Homo sapiens: one gene and its partners. The protein of the gene in region 3 interacts with the protein of the main gene of each other region in a biochemical or structural test. Each region holds a gene or a part of one and is shown on either strand. Other genes may lie near its edges. The genes, in order: TRIM55, SIRT1, PPARG, USP22, PAK4, JMJD1C and MAP2K1.

Evidence for each region.
Region 1: of the proteins of PPARG (region 3) and TRIM55, one has a biochemical effect on the other in vitro, tested with the Homo sapiens proteins (one study listed by BioGRID).
Region 2: of the proteins of PPARG (region 3) and SIRT1, one has a biochemical effect on the other in vitro, tested with the Homo sapiens proteins (one study listed by BioGRID).
Region 4: the proteins of PPARG (region 3) and USP22 form a complex in vitro, tested with the Homo sapiens proteins (one study listed by BioGRID).
Region 5: the proteins of PPARG (region 3) and PAK4 form a complex in vitro, tested with the Homo sapiens proteins (one study listed by BioGRID).
Region 6: the proteins of PPARG (region 3) and JMJD1C interact in a test that uses a peptide from one of them, tested with the Homo sapiens proteins (one study listed by BioGRID).
Region 7: the proteins of PPARG (region 3) and MAP2K1 form a complex in vitro, tested with the Homo sapiens proteins (one study listed by BioGRID).

The regions. Positions count from the first base shown.
Region 1 is NC_000008.11:66,133,629-66,137,128, forward strand, and holds part of TRIM55 (tripartite motif-containing protein 55), read left to right. Parts: intron 1-1,361; coding exon 1,362-1,527; intron 1,528-3,466; coding exon 3,467-3,500. UniProt on the Homo sapiens protein: E3 ubiquitin ligase that plays an important role in regulating cardiac development and contractility, muscle growth, metabolism, and fiber-type differentiation.
Region 2 is NC_000010.11:67,891,156-67,894,655, reverse strand, and holds part of SIRT1 (NAD-dependent protein deacetylase sirtuin-1), read right to left. Parts: intron 3,255-3,500; coding exon 3,102-3,254; intron 1-3,101. UniProt on the Homo sapiens protein: NAD-dependent protein deacetylase that links transcriptional regulation directly to intracellular energetics and participates in the coordination of several separated cellular functions such as cell cycle, response to DNA damage, metabolism, apoptosis and autophagy.
Region 3 is NC_000003.12:12,376,070-12,379,569, reverse strand, and holds part of PPARG (peroxisome proliferator-activated receptor gamma), read right to left. Parts: intron 1-3,500. UniProt on the Homo sapiens protein: Nuclear receptor that binds peroxisome proliferators such as hypolipidemic drugs and fatty acids.
Region 4 is NC_000017.11:21,005,012-21,008,511, reverse strand, and holds part of USP22 (ubiquitin carboxyl-terminal hydrolase 22), read left to right. Parts: intron 1-515; coding exon 516-642; intron 643-1,524; coding exon 1,525-1,616; intron 1,617-3,500. UniProt on the Homo sapiens protein: Deubiquitinase that plays a role in several cellular processes including transcriptional regulation, cell cycle progression or innate immunity.
Region 5 is NC_000019.10:39,167,286-39,170,785, forward strand, and holds part of PAK4 (serine/threonine-protein kinase PAK 4), read left to right. Parts: intron 1-21; exon of another isoform or gene 22-101; intron 102-578; exon of another isoform or gene 579-800; intron 801-944; 5' UTR 945-1,017; exon of another isoform or gene 1,018-1,027; intron 1,028-1,339; exon of another isoform or gene 1,340-1,555; intron 1,556-2,246; 5' UTR 2,247-2,268; coding exon 2,269-2,472; intron 2,473-3,500. UniProt on the Homo sapiens protein: Serine/threonine-protein kinase that plays a role in a variety of different signaling pathways including cytoskeleton regulation, cell adhesion turnover, cell migration, growth, proliferation or cell survival.
Region 6 is NC_000010.11:63,172,478-63,175,977, forward strand, and holds part of JMJD1C (probable JmjC domain-containing histone demethylation protein 2C), read right to left. Parts: intron 1-3,500. UniProt on the Homo sapiens protein: Probable histone demethylase that specifically demethylates 'Lys-9' of histone H3, thereby playing a central role in histone code. Demethylation of Lys residue generates formaldehyde and succinate.
Region 7 is NC_000015.10:66,487,912-66,492,044, forward strand, and holds the end of MAP2K1 (dual specificity mitogen-activated protein kinase kinase 1), read left to right. Parts: intron 1-1,303; coding exon 1,304-1,365; intron 1,366-1,806; coding exon 1,807-1,852; exon of another isoform or gene 1,853-2,590; coding exon 2,591-2,704; 3' UTR 2,705-3,633; downstream 3,634-4,133. UniProt on the Homo sapiens protein: Dual specificity protein kinase which acts as an essential component of the MAP kinase signal transduction pathway.

The DNA of each region.
Region 1 (3,500 bases), on a different chromosome or scaffold from region 3:
CTGGAAGTCCGTGCAATTTTCTTACAAGACCCAGGGCTTCTCCCAATGTTTAGCCTAATCTCAAGTAATTGACGTCCACCTAGCAACTTATAAAGGAACATTAGCGTCTTACAGAGGCACATCAGCACGTTCTCTGCCTTTCTCTGAGTTCTGGGTCTGCAGCTACAAGATACCACACATCAAAAAAGATGGGTTTCAAACACTTGTATTCATGATTTACAGTAGGAAGTGCATTTTACATTGTGACCACTTACATATATGGACGGATATATATACACACACATATGTATATACACACATACACAAACACACACACACACACAAACACACATATACTTTTGTTTCAGTCACATATATACACACGTACACCTGAAACAAAAGTTTCGAACAGCAATACTTATTTTTACTACATGTAATTCACAGTATTTGCTATTCCATTCTATTTTTATTTTAACAATGCAGATCATAGCTCCCTAAATTGATTTCATGGCTCATAAAAACCTGTAGTTTTTAAAAATTGGATCTGTATAGCAACAAAACAAAATGTAGTCCCAAATCTAAGATGTTGCTAAATAACTATGTGTTTGGAAATTTGAAGAAAGCTTCTGGATTTGGATTTGAATTTTTTGAATACTTCTGAAAACTATTAGCAGCCTCAGTCATTAGATAGGATATATCAGAATTCCTGGGGTTTATATAAGGAGGTACACCCACACTTGCGTCTCATACACATTTGCATCCAACCAGTACTTGAATTAATAATCAGAAGATTTTGGTTCCATGTGAGCCACACCTATCCTCATTTCTTCAGGTGAAAAGGGTCTTTCCTGGGGCCAGAGGCTGGAGGGGGGCGATCTAGCTACTCCTAAAAGCTGGTGCAAACTCGACTTTTAGTTCATCAACAATTTCCTGTTCTTGGTCCATAATGGGAAAGTGTCCCTTGAGAAACTTGTGAGCATGTAGACACAGTGCTGGACCACGTTCCTGATGGCTCACCAGGGTTCGATATTCTACTTTCAGGAATTTCACTACCAGATTCTGAAACCTTAAATAACTTAAAATTGGCCATGTGGAAATACACCATGGAAATGGGCAAATGGTACAAATCAGGATCTCCACGTCTCTGTCCCTACCCCAAGCAGGTTGTTAGAGATTTGCCAGCACTCCCCTGCTACACCTGCAGGGAAGCTGAATTTGGTGGGCTCTGAGCATGTGAAAGGGCCCCTGGGGGTCTTCTGGAATAGAATTGCTGGGCATACAGGGAAGAGAAGGAATTTGCAAGGCAGAGCAACATCAGCTCTGCCTTGATGAGATTGCCCCAGTGAGAGCTGATGGACATTTATCTGCCTACCTCCTCCCAGGCCAGAAAAGAAATCCGACCAGCCCATGTGCGAGGAACATGAAGAGGAGCGCATCAACATCTACTGTCTGAACTGCGAAGTACCCACCTGCTCTCTGTGCAAGGTGTTTGGTGCACACAAAGACTGCCAGGTGGCTCCCCTCACTCATGTGTTCCAGAGACAGAAGGTAACAGAGCTGCTCCCTCCCTCCCGCAACCCCTCCCCATCCCCACACCTTAGGGCCTTCCTGGGGCCAGTGTGAGTGGCTCCCTGCGGTGGAGGAGGAAGCCCAAGCCACGCAGGGCCATGGGACACTGGAGGGCACACAAGGTCTGCAGGAAGACATGTGCACAGTTGTGCACGAGGCACACACCAAATTCCCTGGACGGTGGGGGACCAGGCGAGACAGGGCAGGGGTGCCCAGGTTCAGGAAGTGGTGCAGAACGGCACGATCCCTGTTTTTGTGCCCTTTGGAGGTTGCTGATGATGAGCAATGTTAGGGGACCCAGCAAAAGCTCAAACTGCTCCAGCTTATGTGAAGTTTAGACTACAGATAAGAAAAGGACAGCTTTTTACCCTAGTCACAGAATACTTTCCTTCATCCACCCATGAAAGATTTCTTTGGCCCTCCTCAATGCCTTTTATCCCGCACTCTTAGTGAGGGAGGGTTACACTGATGACATGCAGTTACAGAACAGCTTTAAAACACAGACTTGTGCTGGCCCTCCTGTCACCAGGGCCAGTTGCCTAAAAACCCCTCTGAGTGTGGTGTCTCCCCCTGACCCCAGGGCCTCAGCCATGGCCCCCTAATTCTGAGCAGACAGAAAGACAGTGTCTCCCTCTACACATTACCAACCTGCCAACCTGGTTTCATTCATGAGCAGGTCAGAATTTATCCATCTGGTACAGATAAAAGTGGAGTTGGGTACTCCAATAGGTGCAGCCACTCCAGGCACCGAGAACTTGAGCAGTTCCACTACTCAGTTTCTTTCATTTAGAATCATCAGTTCCACATTTGATCAGTGTTTTACTGTGAAGATCAGTGCTGAAATCAAATTTGGAAGCAAAACTCTTGGGCAACACCAATTACAGCTAGTGGCCACTAAGTCCTAAAGAAACAGATTTTGCAAATTATCCACAACATTTGTTTATTTTTGAATCCAGTTACAATTTATTCCCCCTTCTCTTCTGCCCACCTCCCCCAAAGCATAGCATAATAGAACTGGATGGTAGCTGTTTCACACTCCTTCCTTCAGAGCCTGGAGACTCATGTGAGATGGACAGAAGAACAGACTGGTGGGACCCTCACCCTTGCTCCTGTTTGGCCAAAGCAGCTTCACCTCCATATTAGCTTTCACTTGAAGAAGGTTCTGCAGCTTTAAAATATTTTATAATCACTGTTCTGGTCCAATCTTCTCCTTCTAAATGTGAGAAAATTAGGGTCAAAATTGAATATATGTTTTGCCCAACATCACAGAGAAGTTGGGGGTAGAGTTGGACCAAGCGCATGGGTCTCCCAAGTGCCCCTCCAGTGCTCCTGGTGGCTCCATCAGCCAGTCTTGGGAAGGGGGTAAATAGGAACAATAGAATCTCTTCCTAAGTCAAAAGAGCAAAGGAATTTAAAAGTTGACATTTCTCCCCTAGAACTAGTTCTTTGTTTCAGTGTGAAGTTTGTAATGACTTAGTCTAATGTGTGAGTGTTTGTGTCTGTATACACTATATTCTTATGCCCATAATAAGTATTTGTTGAATAAATGAGTATTTACTATACACATTTCCCAAGTAAAATTGACCCTTAGTTCCACTAGGCAAATAATTCCATTTGGGTCCCTGAAGTCACATATTGGTCTCCATGCTATTTATAAACAATACTTAGAATTCTTTAGCTTGAACATGTTGATCTTAATATTAAGACTGATGAAAACTGTGAAACCTTTCCCTGCACAAATGGATTCATACACAAAGGTTTGCTTGCAATATCAGAAGGTCCACAGGCCTCCCTGTTAGTCCTTAGGGGTTGCATGGATCCTAAATTAAGAACCTGTAAAGACAATATTATGACCAATTCACAGTCGGGGTGGCTAGGAAACCCCTAAGATATTGGGTTCATGTTTTCTCTTCATTAGTCTGAGCTCAGTGATGGCATCGCCATCCTCGTGG
Region 2 (3,500 bases), on a different chromosome or scaffold from region 3:
TTTTTCAGTTTAACAATAAAAAATGTATTCTCCATAACTAGTGAGTCAAGTTTTTTGTAGTTGATTTAAGATCAAAGTAACTTCTAGTTACTTGCTGGTCTTCTGATAGTGTCAATGTCTGCGCTACGTGGAGATTTTATAAATGCCAGTGTCCTAGCTCCAATTCAAGAAACCTTTAAGTCATACTTCACTGGTCTTCAAAACCATGCAGTAGTGCCACTAGCAGGAGTAGGTTAAAACAGTAAATCTTCACTAATCCATAATTAACAAAAAATAACTTTACATTATTTATTTAATCCAGGTATGAACCAGTTGTCTGCTCTAAAAGCTAGATATAGATGACCATCATCATTACGGATATATGAAGTAAAAAGTTCAAATTATATAAGTTTTAAGTTAAAAATTCTCTTGATAGCCTGAAAACTTTTCAAATTCAGTTTAGTAATCATATTCAAGAATTAATATAATTTTCCCACTTTACACTAATGCCCATTTAATATACCACAACCTGGATAAAACAAAAGTTACATGGGGTGGAGGGGTGTAGTGATTAGGGTCTCACTGTGTTGCGCAGGCTGGTCTCAAACTCCGGAGTTCAAGAGATCTTCCTATCTCAGCTTCCCAAAGCACTGGGATTATAGGCACGAGCTACTGCATCCAAAAAATCACTTTTTTTTTAAAGACAGTCGCCAATTTAAGTAACATAATTTATTCTGAATTAGCAAAGCTTCTCCTGTAGTCATGTAAATATACCACATGGTCTGAAAGTAGATAAGGCCACTGTTTAGTTAAAATTTAGGTTCATCGGCAGGGCGCGGGGCGCGGTGCCTCGCACCTGTAATCCCAGCACTTTGGGAGGCTGAGATGGGCGGACCACAAGGTCAGGAGTTCAAGACCAACCTGGCCAACATAGTGAATCCCCGTCTCTACCAAAAATACAAAAATTAGCCAGGCATGGCAGCACGCGCCTGTAGTCCCAACAACTCGGAAGGCTGAGGCAGGAGAATCTCTTGAACTCGGGAAGTGGAGGTTGTATGGTGAGCAGAGATCACACCACTACACTCCAGCCTGGGAAACAGAGCCAGACTCCGTCTCCAAAAAAAAAAAAAAAAAAGCTAGGTTCATTAACTTCTGGATTCATTAAAGAAGTCCCTATTCACAACTTCTAACGATTAGGTGGGGAAAAAGCCACTAATACAAGACTCCTTCGCTGGAAGCCATCATCCTCAGCAAACTAACACAAGAACAGAAAACCAAACACCACATGTCCTCACTCATAAGTGAGAGTTGAACAATAAGAACACATGGACACAGGGTGGGGAACACCACACACAGAGGCCTGTCAGGAGGTGGGGGGCAAGGGGTGGAAAAGCATTAGGACAAATACCTAATGAATGTGGGGCTTACAACCTAGATGACAGGTTGATAGATGCAGCAAACCACCATGGCACATGTATACCTATGTTAACAAATCTGCGCATTCTGCACATGTATCCCGGCACTTAAAGTAAAATAAAATAAAATGACTCTTTCAAATATATATACCTCCAAGTTTAACAATAACAAATTTTGTAATTTCTTTCCAAAAGACTGAAATACAGGAAAGAAAACAGTTTTCTAATGACTCAATCTCTTGAGAATGGTGTAATGCATTATTAAACTTTCTATGCTAAAGCAGAGCTGTACAATAGGTACATAATGTGAGACATACATATAACTTTAAATTGTTTAGTAACCACATTAAGGTGAAAACTGGCCAGGCGCGGTGGCTCACGCCTATAATCCCAGAGCCTTGGGAGGCCGAGGAGGGTGGATCACCTGAAGTCAGGAGTTCAACACCAGCCTGGCCAACCTGGTGAAACCCTGTCTCTACTAAAAATACAGAAATTAGCTGGGCATGGTAGCGGGCGCCTGTAATCCCAGCTACTCAGGATGCTGAGGCAGGAGAATCACTTGAACCTGGGAGGCAGAGGTTGCTATGAGCCAAGATCATGCCATTGCACTCCAGCCTGGGGGACAAAGGAAGACTACTTCTCAAAAAAAGAAAAAAAAAAAAAGTAAACTTCAAAAAACATACATATATTTTGGAAACACTCTTGCTCTGTTGCCCAGGGTGGAGTGCAATGGCAGATCATGGTTCACTCAGTCTTGAGCTCCTGAGCTCAAGGGATCTTCCCACCTCAGACTACTGAGTGGATGGGTCTACAGGTGCACACCACCATGCTCAGCAAATTTTATTATTTATTTTGTAGAGATGGAGTCTCATTATGTTGCTCAGGCTGGTCTCAAACTCCTGGGCTCAACTGATCCTCCCACCTTGGCCTCCCAAAGTGCTGAAATTACAGGCATGAGGCAACACGCACAGCCCAAAATACATTTTATTTAACCCAATATCAAAAGTATTTCAAAAGAATTCAAAATTAATTTTAAGTATTTTTTCCATATAAAAACCAATATTTGTTTAATATTTGATGAATAAAACTAATGAAATACTTTGTATTTTCCATACTGGATCTCTAAAATCCAATATGTCTTCTACACTTATTGCACATATCAATACATTTCAAGTACTCAACAGCCACATGTGGCTAGTGGCTTCTGAACTGGACGGTGCAACTCTAGAGCAGAATAATGATCCTCTGCAATTTGCTGACAAAAATGCAACCCAAGAATCTTCCCATTCTCTAATTACAAATGATTTTTCAGGCACATCCTTATGTTAAAACTTGACTACGAAACACCAAAGTGATGTTATAACCTTTACAATCTCTAATAAAATATTAAAAATCACAAGTTATGTTACTTTTATATGGTGTGCAAACCTCTTAAAAAAGCCCAGGCAGAATAACGACCATCGCTGCAGTGCAAATTTTAAAAATATGAACTATCTCTTTGAAAATAAGCTCACTCCTAAAATGAAGTAGATAATAGTCCTCCTCTAGGAATAAAGGAATTCTAGCCATAATGAGTGATCTTACTCCGCCACAGTAGCAGCATTCACTTTACTAAACAATGAACGATAACCTTAAGGTGGCTGTATGTGAACAAAATACTTTTTCATGAGAGAAGGCCAAAGAAACAACCAGAAGAGTTCATAGTACCTTTGCAAACTTGAAGAATGGTCTTGGATCTTTTCTGAAATATTCAATATCAAACATCGCTTGAGGATCTGGAAGATCTGGGAAGTCTACAGCAAGGCGAGCATAAATACCATCCCTTGACCTGAAGTCAGGTATTCCACATGAAACAGACACCTAAAATGTGCATGGCATAATTTGTAAAATTAAATCTTCTACCTTTATAGGAACTAGCTAGCTCTCTTACCATATAATTAGGTAAGAGTTGAGAAAGAAAATTTTAGTCTGAAACTTCTTTTAAGAAATAAAAATACAACCCTACCCTTATTTCAGAAATAAAACTCCCAAATAACTGAGTAAAATTAAACATACCTCATATTCCATCTTTAACACAGATAAGGAATTTTTAAGTCAGGCCAATTT
Region 3 (3,500 bases):
CATAACCACCTTCTTAGTGCTGTCTAGGCTGTTTTATGATAGAAAGGAAGTCACCCTTTACCCAGGTATCATAATAGAGGATCCTGAAACAGTGCAGATACATACAGTGTATCCATATAAATGCCTTTTTGCCAACAGGCCTGCTCTCATTAACTTCTACATTAGGTCATCAATTGAGTCTGTTAATGACTGCTGTTATTTATTTAAAATTTTGTCCAGCTTTATTGAGTATAATAGACAAAAATTTTTAAACTTAAGGTATACAGGCCAGGCACAGTGGCTCACACCTGTAATCCCAGCACTTTGGGAGGCGGAGGCAGGAGGATCACCTGAGGTCAGGAGTTCGAGACCAGCCTGGCCAACATGGTGAAACCTCATCTCTACTAAAAATACAAAAATTGGCCGGGTGTGGTAGCACGCCTGTAATCCCAGCTACTTGGGAGACTGAGACAGGAGAATCACTTGAACCTGGGAGGCAGAGGTAGCAGTAAGGTGAGATCACACCACTGCACTCCAGCCTGGGTGACAGAGCAAGACTCCACCTCAAAAAAAACCTAAACCAAAACAAAACAAAAAAACCCAAAAAACCAAAAAACAAACAAAACACTTAAGGTATTCAATGTGATGTTTTAATATACGTATTTACTATGAAATGATTATCATAATCAAGGTAATGAACATATTCATCACTTCACAGTTACCTTTTTGAGTATGAATATGTGTAGTGAGAACACTTAACATCTACTGTCTTAGCAAATTTCAAATATACCATACAGTATCACTAACTATAGTCACCATGCTGAAGGTGACCTATACTTAGCAGATGATCACCTTAGAAGGTGACCAGAGCTTATCCTGCATAACTGAAACTCTGGCTGATATCTCCCCATTGCTCTCACCCTCCAGCTCCTGGCAACCACCATTTTACTCACTGCTTTTATGAGTTCGACTTTTTTAGATTCCACGTGGATCATGTGGTATTTGTCTTTCTGTGTCAAATACCACCCAGTTTAATTCTCTTAGCATAACGTCCTCTAGGTTCATCTCTGTTGTCGCAAATGACAGGATTTCCTTCTCTTTTTAAGGCTGAATAATATTCTATTGGGTGTGTACATATACATCTGTATGTGTATATATGTATGTGTGTATATATATACAGATATATACTGTGTTTTCAAAAATCCATTCATCCATTGACACTTAGGTTGATTTCATATCTTGGCTATTGCGAATAATGCTGCAGTGAACATGGGAGAGCAGATAGCTCTTCAACATACTGATTCCATTTCCCTTGGATATATACCCAGAAGTAGGATTGCTAGATCATATGCTAGTTCTATTTTTAATTTTTTGAGGCAGTCCATTCTGTTTTCCATAATGACTATACCAATTTACATTCCTGCCAACAGTGTACAAGGGTTCCCTCTTATCCACATCCTTGCCAACACTTCTTATCTTCTGTGTTTTTGATAACAGCCATTCTAATGGGTGTGAGATGATATCTCACCGTGGTTTTGATTTGCATTTCCCTGATGATTAGTGATGGTGAGTACCTTTTCATATATCTGTTGGCCACTTGTATGTCTTCTTTCTAGAAATGGATATTCCTTTATCATTTTTTAACTGGGTTATTTGTTTTCTTGCAATTGAGTTTGTTGAGTTTCTTACATATTTTGGAATATTAATTCCATATCAGATGTACGATTTGCAATCCATAACTTCATATCAGATGTACAGATTCCCCTATTCTGTAGGCTGGCTTTTCACTTTATTGATTATTTCCTTTGTGGTGAAGAAGTTTCTAGTTTGATGCAATCTGTTAATGATTGTTTTTAAAGTGTGCACAGGGTTCCAGGACAATTTTACTCTCTTGAAATTAGAAGCCCAAAATATTTTTCTCTTTAGGATGAAATTTTTGCTATTCTACTTGTATTTATAATGCTTTTGTGTAATAGAAAAGTTGGCAAATTAAATTTAGGTAAATGAACTTCTTCTTTAATTGCATCCTAAAATAATTTTGTTCTTAAAATAATACAAAAATAAAAAAATTTTAAAGGGAAAAATCACTCAATTATTACTTCTGTACTATGAAAAATTACTCAATAATCTTTTCTGTGGATACACCTTTTCTTAAAGCGGAGAAAGTTTTCCCCACATTGAGAATAGAAAGGTTAGAGAGATATGTGGAAACATTTGATCACACCCGAGAGTGTCAAAATCAGACTCTAGCCCAGCATTAATTTTAAACCATCCCCAAAACAAAAACAAAACAAAACAGAGATAGAAACAAGAAAACACATAAAAGACAAAGGAAAAATGCTTACATGGATTCTAAGGCCACAGAATAGCAAGTTTCATGAATCATTTGCCCAATATCATGTATGCCACATGCATTTTTCTAAACATGATTTATTGTCACAGTAAGTGCAACAAAACTCTTTTGGTTCACTTCATGTGAACTTGTGAGCCACCGAGGGTGCAGACTGGAAAACTTTCTGCAATAGGTACCTGGACTCTGTTTACCTGACACCAGTTCATTATTCAAAGTGGTGCCAAAAAAGCAGTCATAGGTATTTTAAATGTTAACTCTGTGGTCAAAAACACCAGTGGAGAGCTGTGTAAATTTAGGACTGCTCACACGGGAGACAGAGATGAGCTGCTCATAAACTCCAGGATTCATCAAATCATAGGCGTATCTTTCTTGTTTGCAGTCATATCCCCACTGGCTAACAAAGGGCTTGTCTCATAGTAGGTGCTCGTTAAATATTTATTTATTAAATACTAAATACATTGATGACTTAATGAGATAGCTGTGAAGTTTCAGCAGAAGGGGCAGGGAAGGAGGGAAGCAAATTGGTATTGATCAAGCACTTCCCATGTGCCCGGTACATCCTACCTTTTCTTCTGCATAATCTGAAATATTATTCCCACTTTATAGATAAGCAAGCTAGGACCAAAGAAGTAAAGTGAATTGTTCAAGGTCCTCTAGCTAGGAAGTAGAAGATGCAAACTCAAGACTGACCCTGAAACTCTCTTCTGTATATACATACTCTCTTGATTCTCTCATTGATGAAACAGGCTTATGGAGGAGGGGCCACTCTCCTCTGTGTATCTGTGCATGGGCCTCTTGCTTTTCCTTTTTCTTTTCTTTTATTTATTTATCATTTTTTTGGAGCAATTTTATTTTAATGCTCTCACTTTAACACCACTTGCTTTTTCTTACCAAGCAGATTGCCAAGAAATTCACTCCAAAGGCAAACTTTTGCATGAGTTGAAGATTGAAGATTTCGGCTGTCATCTTCATAAGAAAAAATGCCCTGAGGCCGGGTGCGGTGGCTCACACCTGTAATTCCAGCACTTTGGGAGGCCAAAGAGGGTGGATCACCTGAGGTCAGGAGTTCGAGACCAGCCTGATCAACATGGAGAAACCCCATCTCTGCTAAAAATACAAAATTAGCTGGTCATGGTGGTGCATGCCTGTGATCCCAGCTACTCGGGAA
Region 4 (3,500 bases), on a different chromosome or scaffold from region 3:
ATTGGCTTTTCTTGCACATCCTAATTCTCTGGGGACGCATCCAGGGTACAGCTTGGGATCAGTAGTTCCTTCCTTTTTTGCTGCTGTCTCATACTCCATGGTACAGTGTTCCACAGTTTCTTTAATTATTCAGCCATGGGAAGAAACGGGGTGTTTCCAGTTTTGTGACTCTCGTGAGTAACATTCTGGTGCACATTTGTGGACAGTTTGTGTGTGAACATTAGTTTTCATTTCTCTGGCTCAAATTCAACTGCTGGGTCATATGGTACTTAGAAAATTATTACCATTTCCCCAGGCCTTTCCTGGAAAAAAAATATTTAAGATAAATATTCTGTAGAGACAGGCAGCAAAGGTGGACAACATTTTCTCTTTTTTTCATTGTTTCATTTTTAGTTGTAAGTGTATGTTTTTGGTAGGGAAATCAACCCAATGAAAGAGATAAAATACCTCTTTCCTCTCATTTTTCTGTCTCTTGCATCTCCCTTACCGCTCCTGTCTTTTTTGAACGCCTGTAGATTCACCAGACCAGAGCACTTGGGCAGCAGCGCCAAGATCAAGTGCAGCGGTTGCCATAGCTACCAGGAGTCCACAAAGCAGCTCACTATGAAGAAACTGCCCATCGTAGCCTGTTTTCATCTCAAAGTAAGTTTTCCAGAAAGCCAACTCTAATGGCAGACTTAGTTTTTAGTCCACAGTACGGTCCTCAGCCTTTTGGTTTGCTGTGCAGTTACATTTTTTATAATTGCAGCAAGCAGGAAGAACACCGAGGAAGGGAGGGTGTGAGGGAATTGTCCTCCCATCTGTGAATTGTCCTTTTGTCTGTGCTGCGGTAAACAAAATCAGTGGCTTCGCAGTGAAAGTAGAATGTGAGTTTTCTTGGGAGCAGAGTGGTTGTGAAGTTTTTATTACTTCTACCATTCCTCCAGCTACCCCCTCCTCAGGTTTTCTGTTTTATTTTAAGACAAAGGCCCTCAGCATGCAGATCTGGTCCAGGAGTTGGCAAGCTCTTTCTCTAAAGGCCCAGATAACTGAAGATGTCGAGCTCCACAGGCTGCGTGCGATCATACGATTCTCTGTTACATGTTCTTTGTTTCATTTCACCACCCTTTAAACATGGAAAACGCCCATTCCTAGCTTGCTGGCTGGAATGGGTGACTCCTGATCTAGGCAAAGGACTGTCTTCTGTCTGGTGAAAGGAACAATTTGTTCATTTTTGCTGCCATGGGCCACGGATCTTTGTTTTGTTTTCTGTGCTTTGCTGGGTTTGCTGTAAGATTACTTTTTGTACCCTTGGTGTTACCACTGAACAGTCCCATCATTTGAAGACTTGAACCCTGTAAATGAGGACTTGGGTGGATTGCCACTGTGTTTTTGAATCTGTAATTCTAGATGTAGCTACAAGGCAGTTCAATAAAATACAAAAGAGATAACACAGACACCTGTCATCAGAAGAAGGCCCTGAAGCTTCCAGTGACATTTCTGATCTTCTTTCCTCTTCCCTCTGTCCCCTTCCTATTTCTGCAGCGATTTGAACACTCAGCCAAGCTGCGGCGGAAGATCACCACGTATGTGTCCTTCCCCCTGGAGCTGGACATGACCCCTTTCATGGCCTCCAGGTATGTGGGGTTGTAGGCCCGTTCTGTGTCCTGAGGGGCTGTGATCCTATCAGGACAGGAATCCAGCTCGGAGCTCCTATTAAGATGACTGTTGGCCGGGTGCAGTGGCTCCCGCCTGTAATCCCAGCACTTCAGGAGGTCGAAGCGGGCAGATCATGAGGTCAACAGATTGAGACCATCATGGCCAACATGGTGAAACCCCGTCTCTACTAAAAATACAAAAATTAGCTGGGTGTGGTGGCAGGCACCTGTAGTCCCAGCTATTTGGGAGGCTGAGGCAGGAGAATCGCTTGAACCCAGGAGGTGGAGGTTGCAGTGAGCCAAGATCGCGCCACTGCACTCCAGCCTGGTGACAGAACGAGACTACGTCTAAAAAAAAAAAAAAAAATGACTGTCGATACTAATATAAACCCCACCTTCCCCAAATCTGTTTATCCTGATCTTAAGATACAGCACATGTTAATGAGTTGTTTTTCATCAGATACCCTGTTTTTGTTTTGAATTTCTCAACAATTATCAATCCACTTTCAAACCGGCAAAGTCCTCAAGGTGGGATCACAGCGAGAAGGCAACATTTTAGTTCGTGGAACAGATGTTGAAGTACAGGCAGACATAGTTGGTTTTGCAGTTGTAGATTGCATTTTCCTTTTCAAATCTGCCTATTCTGGGGTACTTGGAATTCAGCTGCTTACTAATGCATGAGACACATAGGAGTTTCCTGTGGTTCTGTGACAAATGACCAAAAACCTGGCGGCTTAAAATTAATTTCCTCACAGTTCTAGAGGTTGGAAATCTGAAATCAAGGTGTTGGCAGGGCTCCATGTCCTACAAGGGTCTTGGGGATTCCATTCCTCACCGCCTCCAGCTGCTGGTGGTTCCACGTGTTCCTTCTGTGGCTGTCACTCCCCTGGCTTCCGGGTCACATGGCCAGCTCCCCTGACTCTGTGTCCAGTTCCCTCTGCTTCTCTGTCATGACCGTGGTCATTGGCTTTAGGACCTAGGCAGATCATCCAGGAGGATCTCATCTCAACATCTTTACTTTGAGTCTCTGCAAAGACTGGTTTTACAAATGAGGTCCCAGTCTCAGGTTCTGAGGGTTGAGACGTGGATGTTGTTATTTGCAGGGTGTTATTTTTTGGTGGCCACAGTCCCAGCCCCAGCACCGTGGAAAGCATGTTGCTTTTTGGTAGTTAGCGGCCTCTTCCTGGTGTCCTCTCATGGCTGTCCCACCCCTGTGGCACACAGATGACCTCCTGAATAAAACAAGACCAGAGTCAGAGCTCCATATCATCAGTCTGACCACGATGGTCACGTACTGAGGGAGGTGACAGTACTGTTCTAAGGTCAGGGTCTCAAAGATCTTGGTGTTTCCTGCCAAACACAGCTGTAGGAAAATGCAGTAAATAATGTGCATGGCTTCCTGTTCCCAGCACTCCTCTCCCCCATCTCACCAGGGGAGGTGCTGGTCATGAAATAATGAGCAGCAATCTTTGTCCCTTTTGAGGAGGCACCTGCCTAGGTTGTAGAATGGATTCAGCGTACCCTTTCAAGCTAACCCTTTACATGTGGGAGGAAGAGCACCTTCACCATCTGCTTTGTCACAAACCAAACTCACATTCCTCCAGATCCAGCTCCCATTACCAGCCCTATTCAGGACCCACCTTGGAAGAACCAGGGGCCACGCCAGGTGGCCTCAGGACCCAGGTGTGCTCTGAGGCAGGGGCCTCCACAGCTTGAGCGTCAGTGTCCTCACGAAACATGGGGAGATTTCTGCCTGAAGCATAAAGTGCACCTCGGTGCAGCATCTGCATGGTCAAGCTTGGATAAGTGTTGGTTTCACGAGAGCCTTGTGTCTCTGGGCCTGATGATTTTAATGATGCTGAA
Region 5 (3,500 bases), on a different chromosome or scaffold from region 3:
AAAGGGGGTGGAGGGACATCTGGGAGGACGGAGAGGCCGGAGGACATGGGACGCAGATCTGGAATGACAGCAGGCAGAGTGGGCAAATGGGGACTGTTGGGGTATGTGGATGACCCTGGGAGCTGGGCCTAGAAAGCCATGAGAGAGTAGGTCAGGGCCACCAGGGGTGGGCTGGGCTGGAAGGCCACGAGGGAGGGGTGGGCAGCACTCAGGGCGCCAGCATTGGGCTCAGAGAAGGGGCTGGGCAGAGACAAAGGAGGCCCCCCGTCCGCCCTCCATCCTGGGCCCCAGGGCAAGCAGGGAAACTGGGCCAACCCTGGGAGCCTTGGCCAGGCCCGGCTCTGACCACCCGCTGGCCTCTTGGGACCAGCTGAGACAGGTTGGCTGCCGGGCCCCCACCCCCCTCCCACGGGGCTCCCGCTGCCAAACCGGTTCCCCTGGCTGGCTCCCATGGATGGTCCTAGCTCTGGGCAGGGCCTCACCTTTCCCAGCTGCTCCCAGGAAGGCAGCCTGAGCCGGGAGGAGAAGTAGGTGTGGAGGGGCTACGTGCATCTGCGCGTCCTCTGTCCTCTCACTAGGGCTACAGGACTTGCTGTGCCACGCGCTGTGCCAGGCGCGGGGGAGCCAGCTGGGACAAGACAGAACAGAAACTCCACCTGCATGTCCCCTCGTCCCCTGGTCTCAACTCTTCCCCTCTTCCTGGAAGCCTTCCTGCTGCCCACCCCGCGTCCCTCCAGACTGGGTCCCGTGCTCCCGTCCCCCAGCCCTGACCACCCTGGGCAGCTGCTGCATGGGGACAGGTCTGTCTGCCCCACACGAATTTCCCATGAGGTCAAAGGCTGTCTGGGTCACTGCAGTGGCCACAGAGGAGGCCCATTGCTGAGTTATTCCCAAATGAATGAATGAATGAGTGAGTGAATGGATGCATTCCTCTCATTTTACAGATGAGTAACCCGAAGCCCCTAGAGGAGTGGTCACCTGCCTGAGGGCACTTCTGTCCCACCAGCATCAGACCAGGTGTGTGCAGGTGTGTGCGACTCCAGGGCCCAGGCCCGGGGCAGCTGGGGTGGGGCCTTAGGGGGGAGCAGGACCTGGGCCCCTCCTCCCACAGGCACTGTGGGAGCCGCCCCAGCCATCACAGTGGTCCCCACCGATAGGCCCCCCATATTTGCCCAGCCCTGCACCAAGCTCTTTGCTCCCAGTCACCCATTACCCCTCGCAGCAGCCCTGTGGGGGTTCATCCACAGCACAGAGAGGTTGTCACCTGCCCAAGGTCACGGCAGCATGTGATGGAGAGTCGAACTCTGGCCTCTTGGCTCCCCCTCCCATCTTTCTCCAGGCTCTCTATGGGATGCCGCCATCAGAATGTCTCTTCCTCAGCCCCTTTGTTTTTTAAAGTGGCTTTGGTCGACCATTTGCTCTGTGCTTGGTACTGTGTCAAGGGCCCGATTGAAGACCACAGATCCTAAAGATAGGGGAGTGTCGCGACAAGGCTGCCTGGGGTGCCCTCTTAACCCAGGGGATCAGTAACCCTGTGCTGAGTCAATATCCAAAGGTGTGGGCGTCCCCAGCCCAGACTCATGGCTGGACCAGTGGCAGTGGCCAGGCCATCAGTGACCGTCCATCCAGTACACACCATGTACCAGGCATAGCAGGGGATGTGGGGAAGCGGGGCAGACGAGACCCAGCCAGAATGTGGCACTGACACTCTAGCGGTGCGGTGTGGATGCTGCACTCATGAACCTAAGAAGGAACAACAAACAGGATTTCCATGAGTTCCGGGCTGTGACTGTGATGTAGAGCGGGGGGACGGCGGGACACGGGGCTCTTTGCCTTGGGGTGGTCAGGAAAGGAGTCACTGCTGCTCTGAGAACTGAAGGAGGGGACGGGGAGCCCTGTGCAGACACTGGGAAGTGAGCTCCTGGCAGAGGGGCCAGCCCGTGCAAAGGCTCTGAGGTCTCCAGGGGGGGTGAGAACAGAGAGGTGATGGGGCCTTGTGGGCCCGCAGGAGACAGAGCGGCAGGAAAGTTCTGAGCAGAGGGACGTGACCGCTCGGGTGCTCACGGGTACCCTCTGGCTGTGTGTGCCACACAGATGGGCGCAGGGGGTGGGCAGGGAGACCCAGAAGGAGGCTACTGCCTCCTGTTGGTCCCGGTGTAAGATGAGGATGGGAGGGACAGAGCAGGGGCAGAGGAGGAAGAGACATGGGCAGGCTCTCACTCACCCACCGTGATTCCCTCCCGCAGGCCGCACCGAGTCCCCGGCACCATGTTTGGGAAGAGGAAGAAGCGGGTGGAGATCTCCGCGCCGTCCAACTTCGAGCACCGCGTGCACACGGGCTTCGACCAGCACGAGCAGAAGTTCACGGGGCTGCCCCGCCAGTGGCAGAGCCTGATCGAGGAGTCGGCTCGCCGGCCCAAGCCCCTCGTCGACCCCGCCTGCATCACCTCCATCCAGCCCGGGGCCCCCAAGGTATGTGGCACCCACCACCACCTCCCCCAGCCCACCCCAACCCCCGAGTGGCCCTGGCCCTCAACCCCACACTCGACCCTGTGACCGACACCTCCTCACTGACATGGAAATGGAGACAAACCCCAGCCTTCCACCCCTATCCTGGGTCCAGTGCTGGCCTTTCACCCTCCACCCACTGGCTCCAAGTCCTAAGAACCCATGCCACCCCAACCTGAGCCTCCCCCACGGCCCATCTGACAGCCCCCACACCAGCCTCCAAGCTCTGCTGTCTCCCGCAGACTCATGTCCCGGGGGCCATGCTGCTGTACCCCGGACCACACTCCTGTCTCACCCAACCTTGAGCCTTTCCAGAGCTCCTGGCAGTGGAAGACAGACCCATTCCCAGAGGGTGACAGCCCCAAGTGGTCAGGGCTTGGGTGGGGGAGCCCGGAGGAGGCACCTGACACAGACCAGGGGTCCAGGCAAGCTTCTGGGAGGAGGGGACACCGAGGCAGAGCCCAGGGCTGAGGAGGAGGAGGAGAAATTCCAGCAGATGCTGGGGAAGCCGGGCTTTAGTGGAGAAAATCACTCCTGTGAAACGCTGGGGGCTTTTTGGTTTTGGGTTTTTTTTTTTCTTCCTGCCATCTAGAGCAAAATGGCAAGGTTGGGATTTGAACCAATGTCTGTTTCCAAGGCCCGTGCTCTTAACCCCTCTGCTGCCTCCATGTGAAATCATAAGAGTTGTGGAGCCGGTGTCTGGGTGTGGCCTGGCATGAGGCTGGCCTGGCCTGAGCCCGTGCTGGGCCTCTGAAGCCAGCCTTGGAGCCTGGACTCTCTCCCATGGTCAGTGGGGACCAGGAGGGGCCGCAGGCCAAGGGGAACTCGGCCAGGTTTGCATCCAGCGGGTGGAGATGGGTGTGCCTGGGGACTCACCCTCCCGGTGCCCAGCCCAGCCTGGCGGGGAGAAGCCCCAAGGCCCACAAGTTGGCCATAGACACAAGTGCAGCCTCAATGTGGTAGCCCACTGAGGGGTCCGTGTGGTCCTTGCA
Region 6 (3,500 bases), on a different chromosome or scaffold from region 3:
TTATTAATAATACAAACATTAAGTGCATTATTCTAGGCATGGGAAGAGAGCAATGGAAAAGATAAATCTCTTACTTCATCATGCTTACGTTCCAGTGGGGGTTAAAAGACAAGCAAAGTGAGTAAATTATAAAGCATATTTTAAGGTGACAACTGAAATGGAGGAAAATAAAGCAGGAAAGACGACAGAAAGTTGGGGGACACAATTTACAGCTTTAAACTAGACCTCACCAAGAAGGTGAAATTTGAATGAAGCCTAAAAAAGTGTAAAGAAGCAAGTCTTACAGATACCTGACAGAAAAACGATTCCAAGCAAAAAAGATTAAGAAGCACAAAAACCCTGGGGGAGGGGGGAAACATACTTGGTGTGTGTGAAAGAAGCAAAGAGGGCAGGATGGCTAGAGAGGAACTAGGAGAGCCATACGAGATGAAGGCAGTGAGACAGAGGGGGAAGTGTGGATATGTAAACCAACCTAACTTTTTAACAAGGTCACTTTGAGCCTACTAAAAGACCACTGTTCCCAAAAAAGTAGCAGCAGGGACACAAGTGTAAGCATGGAATCTCTTTGGGGTAACAATGATTGCATCTGGAAAAAAGGAACTGGGGGAAAAATGTGAGATACTGAATTTTCACCGTGAACTTTTTATACTTTTGAATTTTTCTGTTTATGTATTACATTTTCAAAAGAAAAACATTAAAAAGTAGTATTTTCAACAAATAGTACTGGAACAGCCAAATGCCCATATGCAAAAAATTGAACCTCGCTCCATACTATGCACTACATACAAAGATGAACTACATTGCATACCCAAATGTAGGACCTCAAACTATAATGGTTCTAGAAGAAAATGAGGAGAAAATCTGAGTGATCTTGGGCTAGGCAACAATTTTGTAGATACTATGAAAATACCATCCATAAAAGAGAAACTGATCAACTGGACCTCATCAAAATGGAAAAAACCAGCCAGGTGGGTTGGCTCATGCCTACAATCCCAACACTTTGGGAGGCCAAGGCAGGAAGATTGCCTGAGCTTAGGAGTTCGAGACCAGCCTGAGCAACACAGCAAGACCCCATCTCCACAAAAAATTAAAAAATCAGCTGGGCATGGTGGTGTCCATCTACAGTACTAGCTACTCAGGAGGGTGTGGTGGGGGGATCACTTGAACCCAGGAGTTTGAGATTACAGTGAGCTATGACTGTGCCACTGCACTCTAACCTGGGCAACAGAGCAAGATACTGTCTTTTAAAAAATGGAAAAATGAAAAAAAAATGCTCTTTGAAAAGAGAAGCTACAGGAAAGGAAAATGTATTTGTAAAACACATTATCAGATAAAAGACATTATCAGAAATTGGCAAAAAACACTCAAAACTCAGTAAGAAAAAAAGCAGCTAAATAGACAGAATATTTGAACACATATTTAACCAAAGTAGATATACAGATGGCAAATGAAGATATAAAAAGATGCCCAATGTTTAGTCATTAAGAAAGTACAAAGTAAAACCACCATGAGACACCACTGTACACTTACTAGAATGGTCTAAAAACAAAACTGACAGTAACAAGCACTAGTGAGGAAGCAGAGGAAATGAAACTCACATAACCCTGCACTGGGAAATGAAAATGGAACAACCAATTTAGAGAATAGTCTGGCAGTTTCTTAAATTTAATCATACATTATAGTATCACCAGGCAATCCCACCATTCAGTATTTACTTAACAGAAATAAAAATCTTTGTTCACATAAAACCATGTATATGAATGTTTATGATAGCTTTATCTATTATTGCCCCAAAGTGGAAAAAACCAAAATGTACTTCAGCTGGTGAATGTACGGATTTAAAAAATGAAAAAAATATTCATACAACTACCCAGCAATAAAAAAAGAATCAACTGATAAATACAACAATAGGAATGAATCTCAAATACATTAAGAAAAGCCAGACTTAAAGGGTACATACTGTGTGAGTCCAAATTTACAGCATACTCATAAAAGAGGAACTATAGGGACAAAAAAGCAGATTAGTTGCAGGAACTTTGGGTGGGAAGAGGCTGACTATAAAAGTGCAAGAGGATGCCGAGCATGGTGGCTCATGCCTGTAATCCCAGCACTTTGGGAGGCCAAGGCAGACAGATTACCTGAAGTCAGGAGTTCGAGACCAGCCTGACCAACGTGGAAAAACCCCATCTCTACTAAAAATACAAAATTAGACAGGCGTGGTGGTGCATGCCTGTAATCCGCAGCTACTCGGGAGGCTGAGGCAGGAGAATCGCTTGAACCCGGAAGGCAGAGGTTGCAGTGAGCCAAGATCGCGCCACTGAGCTCTAGCCTGGGCAACAAGAGCAAGACTCTGTCTCAAAAAAACAAAAAACAAAAAACAAAAAAAAAAACTGCAAGAGGGAATTTTTTCGGAGTGATGGAATTGTTCTACATTTTGATTATGTTGTTACCTAACTATGCATTTGTTGAAACTCACAGAATTATACATTAAATAAGGTAAATTTCACTATATGCAAATTATATCTCAATTTACAAAAATGACTACACTACCTAGGTTAACTTTATAAAAACTGACATTGGATAAATTCAATATGTGAATAAAGATCTTCAAGGGAATCTACTTTGTATTATCAAAGGATTATTCCTATGTACAAAAAGATTTATAATACTAGTCTCTTAAATAGGCTCTTCTTTTGAGAGCATTTACATTTGAATACAGATTAGCTATTTTCTGCTAAGAGTCTAGAAGTCAAAGAAATGGTGTATAGGGTGAATCCCAGATTAAACATGAAACATAAATAATATGACATCTCTGAAATAATCATAAGTCCATGGGAAAATATAACCACTTAATGTAAATACATTTTTTCCAGGAAATTATCATAGAGAAAAAGGTATTTATTATTATGACATTTGTATTTTACTACTGTATCATAAATGCCATTTGAGATCTAATAATGATAAATCTGACCCTGAATCTGACACATCCTAAAAGCTAAGCAATTATTATCACCTAAGTAGTATTTGTATGGAAGAGTGCCATAAATGCTAAAACAGTCAATGACTATACTTATATAAAATGTGAGAAAGTTTCCTTGGTAAACTAATATACATCAGCTACATCTCAATTACTTAGCAGTGGAAAAGGTGGAGAACCAACTGTTGAGGCAAAGCAGCTTTTGAGTTTTTTCTGGTTTCCCTGGTACACCTTGTTAATTTTAAGGGTTAACCTGGGCTGTAGTAGCCCCATTCCACCTATAGGAATCCACTGTGTACTTTTAATCCCACCCTCCATAACCACTGCATCTATTCTATGCCATTTTTCCCGGTGCTGGAAAAATTAGGTATTTTAAACTAGGTATTTATTTTAGTTTTTATGTTTTGTGGATCAACAGTTATATAAATTACATACCATCTTTCTTTAGACAGGCCCCTGATATGCTAGCATGCTGAAGAAAGGTAGGAGGTATGCTTAAAGCCTGATAAAAAGTCTGTATACT
Region 7 (4,133 bases), on a different chromosome or scaffold from region 3:
CTTCCAAATTTTCACATTAATTTCCCATGCAATTCTCCCAAGCATTGCTGAGGTAGGCCAAATTGGTTCCTCTTCAAACAGGTGAGGAAATTGAGCCTCCGAGATGAAAAGTAGCCCAGGTCCTTCCCACCCAGTGCTCTTTCTTCCTTGCCACCTCCCACCTCCCATTCTTACCTCCTAGGAGGCTTGGCTGCATGGCAGTTGTTCTACTGCAGCCTCTGCTGGCACACAGCCCCTCTGCTGCCTAGCTCTTTCCTGTTCAGAAGGAATGGATGCTGCCTCTGGAGGCCAAGCTGCTGGTCTCCTCTCTTCCTTGAATGGTCCCTTGATTCCCTCAGCAGTGGGGACAGTCTGCAGAATGGGGCTTGCTCTGGGTCACTGTTCTAAGAGCTGAGTTCTAGTCCTCACCTAAGATCAGACTGACATGGCCCTCAAAGGAAGAGCACTAGGTTGGGCTTTGTGGTGGGGATCAGTGTCTCATTTTTAGTCCCAAATTAAAAACGAGATTTTGGGCTGTACATCAGAGCAGTGACATCATGGACATTATGTCTGTGGGTCAGCATGGGTACACACAGCTCCCAGCCCAGGTACATAAGTGGGCCCACATTTCCTGGACTGCATGGAACGCCATGAGCCCAGTGCTCCAGAGCCTTGTACTGTATAGTGCTGCATGATCACCATGGGAAAATCTGAAAACAGCCTCATTTCTGGAATGTACAGGTAACATTCTTCCAGATCCAGCCCTCTGTCAGTTAATGTTTTATTAACTTTTCACTGCTTCTCTAGGGCTCAGAAAAGGGATTTTTAAAAACCGGTTTGCTTCTGCAGGTGCTGTCAGACCTGGGCTATGCCTGGTGGTTTGCACGTGCCCCTAGCTGTTGCTGCCAGTAAATTGCTGGTTACGTTCCCATGCCGCACTCCAAGATTTACCATTGTAGAGTGTCAGAGCTTGAAAGGGTCCCTGAGATCATTAGGCCCAACCTCTTCATGTCATAGAAGAGTAAACTGAGGCTCATAGAGGAATAGTGATTAGTTCAAAATCACCCGACAAGTGAGTGGACTTGACTTGGTCCCAATTCTAAATGTGCTATTTGAGATCAGTGGTTCCAACATGGTTACCCAACAGGCAGCACTGGCCTTCTACCTGTGCCTTTCCTTGACTGGATGAGAGTAGTACTGCCTTTGGACTGCAGAGAAGACTTTAAAAAAAAGTAGCACTGGCTGGTGGGAGGGGTGGGATGGGGAGAGGAGATGGCTGGAGCAAGGAGCCAGGCATTTTTCTTATCTCAACATGTGTTTGCAGCCTCCTCCAAAACTGCCCAGTGGAGTGTTCAGTCTGGAATTTCAAGATTTTGTGAATAAATGGTAAGTTGGCTCCTTGTTCTCTGGAAGCGTATACTCTGGATTTGTCAGGCTCCCCACCCCATTTCTGGAAGCACCAGCATTGCTTCTGCAGGCAGAGTTTTGCCCTTTACCCTCCCGTCTGATGATTCTTGGCTGCTGCCATAAGCCCTTTTTTAGAGTGCCAAGACTTATGTGGCATGTCTAACTACATCATGGATGTAGTAGCTGCTCCTTTTGGTACTTGCTCTCCAGGGATTGGCACGTTGCTTTTTGACCTTAGTTTAACTCAGCAAGAATGTATTAACTTACTGTGGGCATGATACTGTGCTTAGAACAGGAGGATGAATCAAGCCCAGGCAATCCTCGGCCTCTAGTGTGCAGAGAAGACAGGCATGCAAACATGTTATTTGAGCTAGAACCAGTGCCAGGCAACAGCTCTTACCTTGTCTTTCTTCCTTTAAGCTTAATAAAAAACCCCGCAGAGAGAGCAGATTTGAAGCAACTCATGGTGAGTCTATTTATTCCGGATTCTTACAGTACCTGTTTATTCATTTGTTCTTCTCTGTCAGTCATCTGTGCAGTACTTCCAGAGCCCATTCATTCCCTGCCCACTGTGGTCCAGCTGAGCCTGGGGCTGCAGAATACCAAACACCAGTCTCCTTTGCTCTCCCATCAGTTTAAGGGAAAGCTGGGGTGACCCCCGCAGCCTGAGTAAGCATATGCCAGAGGAAATGCCTGAGGGGGCCATGGGAAAGAAAAGGCCAGCCCACCCCCTTCATGGGGATGCGGCCTTTCCCTAATACTGACTGCCTCATCTTACATTCAGCCTCCTTCCAGAGTCACTCTCCGCCTGCTGTCTCGTTTGGTGGCAGTGGAAATAGCTAAGTAATACTGTAAATATCTGGACAGCCATAGACGGTGTATATAGTATATAATATGCACTAAGTCCATCATTTTCTTTGTCCCTTCTAACAAGCCTGTGAGGCATTTAAGGCAGAGTTACTGTCTCCATACTGCACGAGTAGGCTCCAAGAGGTGACTTGCCCAAGGCCTCACAGCTGCTGTGACTGGTGGAGCAGGTCTTTGGGCCTGCAGCTGGCCCCACTGTTGCTCAGGGGCAGGTGCCAGGTGCTCTTTCCAAGTGCAGCACAAGCTCTAGACCTGAAACTCTTGGATTTTCCTTCCTGGTGGGTTTTGTTTTTTTGTTTCTTTTTAACACCACGTCCTCTCGTTTCCTTACATGCAGGTTCATGCTTTTATCAAGAGATCTGATGCTGAGGAAGTGGATTTTGCAGGTTGGCTCTGCTCCACCATCGGCCTTAACCAGCCCAGCACACCAACCCATGCTGCTGGCGTCTAAGTGTTTGGGAAGCAACAAAGAGCGAGTCCCCTGCCCGGTGGTTTGCCATGTCGCTTTTGGGCCTCCTTCCCATGCCTGTCTCTGTTCAGATGTGCATTTCACCTGTGACAAAGGATGAAGAACACAGCATGTGCCAAGATTCTACTCTTGTCATTTTTAATATTACTGTCTTTATTCTTATTACTATTATTGTTCCCCTAAGTGGATTGGCTTTGTGCTTGGGGCTATTTGTGTGTATGCTGATGATCAAAACCTGTGCCAGGCTGAATTACAGTGAAATTTTGGTGAATGTGGGTAGTCATTCTTACAATTGCACTGCTGTTCCTGCTCCATGACTGGCTGTCTGCCTGTATTTTCGGGATTCTTTGACATTTGGTGGTACTTTATTCTTGCTGGGCATACTTTCTCTCTAGGAGGGAGCCTTGTGAGATCCTTCACAGGCAGTGCATGTGAAGCATGCTTTGCTGCTATGAAAATGAGCATCAGAGAGTGTACATCATGTTATTTTATTATTATTATTTGCTTTTCATGTAGAACTCAGCAGTTGACATCCAAATCTAGCCAGAGCCCTTCACTGCCATGATAGCTGGGGCTTCACCAGTCTGTCTACTGTGGTGATCTGTAGACTTCTGGTTGTATTTCTATATTTATTTTCAGTATACTGTGTGGGATACTTAGTGGTATGTCTCTTTAAGTTTTGATTAATGTTTCTTAAATGGAATTATTTTGAATGTCACAAATTGATCAAGATATTAAAATGTCGGATTTATCTTTCCCCATATCCAAGTACCAATGCTGTTGTAAACAACGTGTATAGTGCCTAAAATTGTATGAAAATCCTTTTAACCATTTTAACCTAGATGTTTAACAAATCTAATCTCTTATTCTAATAAATATACTATGAAATAAAAAAAAAAGGATGAAAGCTACTTTTGCTTTTGTGGTAAGCTTTTCAGTTTCTTTAGTACACAAGAAATACTGGTTTAGCCAAGCAACACTGGTGAGGGGGAAAGGTGAAGATGAGGAGGAGGCTGGAAGGCAGAAACAGGACACCGAGTTCAGTGCTTTGGACTAATGGGGCTTCCTGTAATTTCAATCTCTGGACTCAGTCCAGCTCTTCTCACCCAACACCCTTATCTGTGACTCTTCCAACCACCTTCCTTGTGGGACCTGTGAATAGATCCTGTATATTCCTTTGATCTCTTTTATACAAGGGAAAAGCAGCTGATGGGGGACTGGGAGCAAATCTGAGAAAAATGACAAAACATTTCTTATCTCACAGAACATTTCTCATTTTCCATATACCAATAGTTGAGCTGAGGGCCTGCCTGCACTTTTAGGCTGTCATGCTCATAGGAGGGCCTTGCTGGTGGCCAGCTTGCCTACCTGGTGTGGGAGCTTTCTGCACAACATAGGACAGTCTGTCTCC